Regions from separate parts of the Homo sapiens genome. Here region 1 is linked to region 2. Evidence: fine-mapped expression QTL. Tissue or cell type: whole blood. Region 2 holds a variant in brackets; the other region holds the start of a gene. All regions are shown on one strand. Distances are between the middles of the regions.

The links. PIP is the estimated chance that this variant, and not a neighbour inherited with it, causes the effect.
Region 1: it holds the start of RAB43, and the variant in region 2 is fine-mapped to the expression of RAB43 in whole blood (TOPMed, PIP above 0.99).

The regions. Positions count from the first base shown.
Region 1 is chr3:129,120,640-129,123,139 of GRCh38, forward strand. It overlaps RAB43 (RAB43, member RAS oncogene family), which reads right to left and starts at 1,165. Exons shown (of 3, transcript NM_198490.3): 1 at 647-1,165. The coding sequence starts at 850. The region is part of intron 11 of ISY1-RAB43 (ISY1-RAB43 readthrough); the gene reads right to left. RefSeq lists an enhancer at 1-194 and silencers at 975-1,154, 1,175-1,394.
Region 2 is chr3:129,029,306-129,032,057 of GRCh38, forward strand. It overlaps EFCC1 (EF-hand and coiled-coil domain containing 1), which reads left to right. Exons shown (of 8, transcript NM_001377500.1): 3 at 1,398-1,555. Among named protein-coding and RNA genes, the nearest start is that of EFCC1, 29 kb to the left of the region's middle. The variant G/GT (reference allele first, on the strand shown) is at 1,140.

The DNA.
Region 1 (2,500 bases), 91 kb after region 2:
CCGGTATCTGTGAAGTTTTCAGTTTCTATCAAACTCCAGCTGGGGGAGGGAACCGGGGCTGGCCCTAGTCGAGTAAAGTTCCACCACCAGGTCCACAAAGAGACTGCAGGGAGGCGTGGCCAGGCCGGAAATTCTGACAAAAAGTTTTGGCCCTCTGGTCCTAAAAGCAACTACTTCCTGATCGCTCCTAGTCCTGGGGTGGGGATGCAGTTCTCTGGCTGAGTGCCCCGCCGGTGGGCTGAGCTGGGGGCTGCCATCGCGGTGGATGGAGGTGGGGGGTCTGATCTCCGCACTCCAAGGCGCTCCGCTAGTACCTGGAACAGGGGAGTCTAACCCCCTGCCTTCCAATGGCTAAAGTTATTTTGGAGCACAGTCCCCTCCTAGGGTGTGAGCTCCGGAGGGCAGGGCCGCCTCCTCCACACTCCCTCGCCCCCCCCCCCCCCAGCAACCCACGGCCGGCGCTTTGAGGACTTGAACCCGGCCCAGACCCCGGGGCCCAGGCCTGCTCCGACCCGAGGAAGGAAAAAGGGGAAGCCAAAGGAAACTTCAGATGGACGCGGGGTGCGCTCGCCGCGGCCAGGGGCTCCGCTGCCCCCGCCCCACCCTCCGAGGGAGCGCCTTCCAGGGGCCCTGGCCGGCCTCCCACCTTGACCCGCTTGCCCTGGATCTCCAGCGTCTTCATGGTGAAGTCGACGCCGATGGTGCTTCCCTGGCGCTCCGAGAAGGCGCCGGTCTTGAAGCGCTGCACCACGCACGTCTTGCCCACGCTTGCGTCGCCCACCAGCACCAGCTTGAACAGGAAATCGTACTGCTCGTCCGGGTCCCCCGGGCCTGGGCCCGGCCCTGCCATGGCCTAGAAGAAGCCGAAGGGCCGGCGCTCTGGACGCTGGGACCGGCCTGAGCTCACGCAAGCCGCGGGCCGAGCTCCGCCCGCTCCAGCCCACGGGCCGCCTGGCTACGTGGAGCCGCCGCAACACCTGAACCCCCAGCACTGCCGACCGCCTGCCTCGGCCTCGGCCCCGCCCCACCCCGGCTGGCTCCCGCCCCGGCCCGGCTCGGCCCCGCCCGGACCCGGTGCCCCGCGGGTTCGGCTCCCCCCCGGACCCGCCAAGCCGGGCCCTCCGCAAAGCTCCGGCCGGTCCTCAGCTCCGTGCCACACCAGTCTGGCCTGTAGGCCCGCCCCAGCCCGCCCCCGCCCGCCCCCGGCTCCGCCCTCAGGCTGGCACCCACTCCGCCCCCAGCCCAACCCTCGGGCCCACCTCAGCCCGACCCGGGTTCCGCCTACGTCCCCGCCCCCGACTCCGCCCTCAGCTCCGACCTCGACTCCGCCCCCAGGCCCACCTCAGCGCGCCCCGACTCCGACCCGACTCTGCCCTCAGCCCGACCTCGACTCCGCCCACAGGACCACCTCAGCCCGCCCCGACTCCGCCCTCAGCCCGAACTCGACTCCGTCCCCAGCTCCGACCTCGACTCTGCCTTCAGGCCCACCTCAGCCCTCCCCGACTCCGCCTTCAGCCCGACCTCGACTCCGCCCTCAGGCCCACCTCAGCACACCGCCCCGACTCCGCCCACAGGCCCACCTCAGCCCGCCCCGACTCCGCCCTCAGGCTCACCTCAGCTCTGACTCCGCCCCACCCGACTCCGCCCTCAGCCCCGACCCCAGCCCGACCCCGCCCTCAGCACCTCGGCCCCTCCTCCATCAACACCCCGGCGCGCCCACACCGCGGATCCGTCTGGCCCCCAAACCGCTGCCCACCCCGACCCTTCATCAGCTGGGACCCCCAGGTGCTGTCCCGCGCCTCCTGCTCGCCCCCCACCCAGGCCTGGTCCGCCTGCCCGGGATCCCCTACCTGCTGCCTCCCAGACCGCCGGTCAGGGACAGGCGGAGACCATGGCTGGAGCTCCGGGCCTGCAGGCCTAGACTAAGAATGACCCCCTCCGGAATGGATCACGGAGGAAGGGGACGACCACAGCAGTGTCACCTGAGTGCCCACTCTGACAGGCGGGCAGTGCAGTCTCCGAGAGTGGTGGGGGTCGCTCTTCCCAGGGGCGGAAGGGAAGGGAGGGAGCAGGCTGCAGAAGGCCAGAATCCAGGCTGGCTACAAAACTGCGGAGGAGCCCAAAATCCTTGTGAGGAGAGGACCCAGGGCCCCATTTGATGGGAAGCTAGGCCAGAAGGAGGAGCTGGGAGCTCTTGTCTCCAAAAGGCAGCCTAGCAGTGGTTGAAGCAGCTGCTAAACGGCTGGATGACCCAGCTCAGAGCAGCTACAGGCCCATTTGGGAAACTGACCCAGCCAAAAAGCACCAGTCTAGGAAGAGGAACAGAAAAACTTGAAGGGATTTCTGAGGAAGGGCAGACCAACTCCTGAGTTGGCCCAGTGAACCAGGGCGCCTCAGAGAAAGGAGACCCAAACATCTGTAAGAAGCTTATACTAGATCCAACAGGACTGGGCTTCCCAGCTCCGAAGATGGGAAGGAATTGACAGCACCCCTTACCCCT
Region 2 (2,752 bases):
ATGGAAAATGAATATTCAAAAGGTCAGGCCCTTAAAATATCAAGAAAAGTGATTGGTGGGGTGTAATGTAGGTTCCCCAAAGCCCAGAGAAGGGAGATGTTTCAATTAAAGGCTTTCGGGGGCAAGGAACAGAAATGCAATTTAAACTAGTTGGGTGTGGTGACTCACATCTGAAATCCCAGTGCTTTTGGAGGCCAAGGCGCTGGAGGATCTCTTAAGACCAGGAGTTTGAGAACAGCCTGGGCAACACAGTGAGATTCTGTTGTTTTTTGTTTTTTGGTTTTTTTTTTGAGATGGAGTCTGGCTCTGTTGCCCAGGCTGGAGTGCAGTGGTAGATCTCGGCTCACTGCAGCCTCCACCTCCTGGGCTCCCAGGTTCAAGCGATTCTCCTGCCTCAGCCTCCCAAGTAGCTGGGATTACAGGTGTGTGCCACCACACCCAGCTAATTTTTATATTTTTAGTGGAGACAGGGTTTCACCATGTTGGCCAGGCTGGTCTCGAACTCCTGACCTCAGGTCATCCACCCGCCTCTGCCTCTCATAGTGCTAGGATTACAGGATTCTGTCTCTATTTAAAAAATTAAAAAAAAAAAAAGTAGGCTAGGTGCAGTGGCTCATGGCTGTAATCCCAACACTTTGTGAGGCCGAGGCAGGCAGATTGCCTGAGCTCAGGAGTTCGAGACCAGCGGAAGCAACATGGCAAAACCCTGTCCCCACAAAAAAATACAAAAATTAGCTGGGTGTGGTGGCGCATACCTGTAGTCCCAGCTAATTGTGGGGCTGAAGTGGGAGGATCGCTTGAGCCCGGGAGGTTTGGCTGCAGTGAGCCAAGATCATGCCACAGCACTCCAGCCTGGGTGACATAGAGACCCTATCTCTTAAAAACAAACAAACAAACAAAAAGTAGCTGAAACAATGAAAACTTTTTTTAAAATTCCCCTATAATAAGAAGTACAGAGATGGGTGGCCCTAGGGCTGATGAACTCAACAGCTAAAAGACATTAAGGCTTTTGTTCAGCTATTCAGTAATTCTCTCAGACATTTTTTCATGTCACAAGATGGCTGCTGCAGCTCCAAACATCACATTCTCACATGACAATGTCTAAAGGCAGGAAGGAAGGGGCATTTCTTTTCCTAGAG[G/GT]TTTTTTTTTATAAGGATGAAAATCCGTTGCAGAAGATTTTGCCTTGAGTCCCATTGGCTAAAACTGGGTTCCATGCCTGTGCCCTAGCTGCAAGGGATGCTGGGAATCTGAGTATCTAGCACTTCCTCCTGGACTGTGGGAAGCTGACTCTGCCAGGGTGACAATGGGTGTTCATAGACAGCTTGCCCATGTACAGTGGGGAATGGAAGAGTCCTGTACTCTCCTCCTCAATGCCTGTGTCTCTCCCACGGCTGCAGGTCAGAGGATTCCCAGCTCCCAACCCCGCAGCTAGCCAACCCAGAGCCAGGAGACAAGAGTAATGAACCTGAAGATGCTGGGACCAGAGACCCAGACCCCACTCCAGAGGGAGCCTGGCAGTCAGACAGCAGCTCTGGAAGCAGAGCCCTGGATGAAGGTTTGTCCCCTGTGCGCCCAGTCTTCCTGCCAGGCTCACAGTCCCTCCGGCTGTGCTCAGCCCTGCTCTCAAGGGCCTGTCTGCATCCATGCTACCACCAGCCTCCAAACAGAGCCCACTCCCACCAGGTGCTCAGGCTGGGCTGGGGCCCTTTTCCCCAGCCCCATCATCCTAAGAACCTGGGCCTAGAGAATCTGGGGTGTGTAGAGCCATCAGGAGGTCAGGATACACTGAGATGTTCCCAAACTTGCCAGGTGGCCAGGGTCACCTTTAAAAGCATGGATGCAGGCTGGATGTGGTAGCTCACGCCTGTGATCCCAGCACTTTGAGAGGCTGAGGCGGGTAGACTGCTTGAGCTCAGGGGTTCGAAACCAGCCTGGCAACATGGCAAAAGCTGGTCTCTACCAAAAATACAAACAAATTAGCCCAGTGTGGTGGCACATGCCTATAGTCCCAGCTACTCGGAGGGGGAGTGGGGGCTGAGGCAGAAGGATCACTTGAGCCTGGGAGGTAGAGGCTGCAGTGAGCCAAGATTGTGCCAGTGCACTCCAGCCTAGGTGACAGAGTGGGGCCCTGCCCCCCTAAAGAAAAAAGAAAAACATGGATGCCCAGGCCCACCCCGGATCTCTGCATGTGATTCTCTGGGGTGGTGGGGGTGGGGTCATAAGCCTGGTTTTGTTTTTAAACAGCTGTATCAGTTAGGACATCGTTTGTCTCCCAGTGTCAGATCATTCAGCCCAAACCGGCTTAAGTTAAAAGAGAATGTATTGGTTCACATAACTTAAAAAGTCCACACAAGCTTCAGGCACAGCTGAAGTGTCAGCAGCGCAGCTGTCTGGACCCCTGGCCCTGCGTTGCTCTACAGTGATTCACTTCACAGCAGGCACTCCCCTCATAGTGGCAAGATGGTCACCAGTGGCTCCAGGCCTGGTCCTCTCAACTCCCAAGCCAGAAGCATGGAGGGCATTTCTCTTCCCTGCAAGTTTTGAGTCCAAGTCTTGGGTTAACTCCAGTGGCTCCCACTGGGTCCCTTGCCCTTCCTGAACTAGTTGCAGAGGAGGCTGCACTCAGCCTGGCCGGGCCTGACTCAAGTGCCCCTGGAGCTGGGTGGAGAGGAAGAGGAGGGAGTGGGACTCCCCTGGGGACGGGGATGGGGACTGAGGTTGGGCAGCAGAACACCAGGGGGCCACACAGACC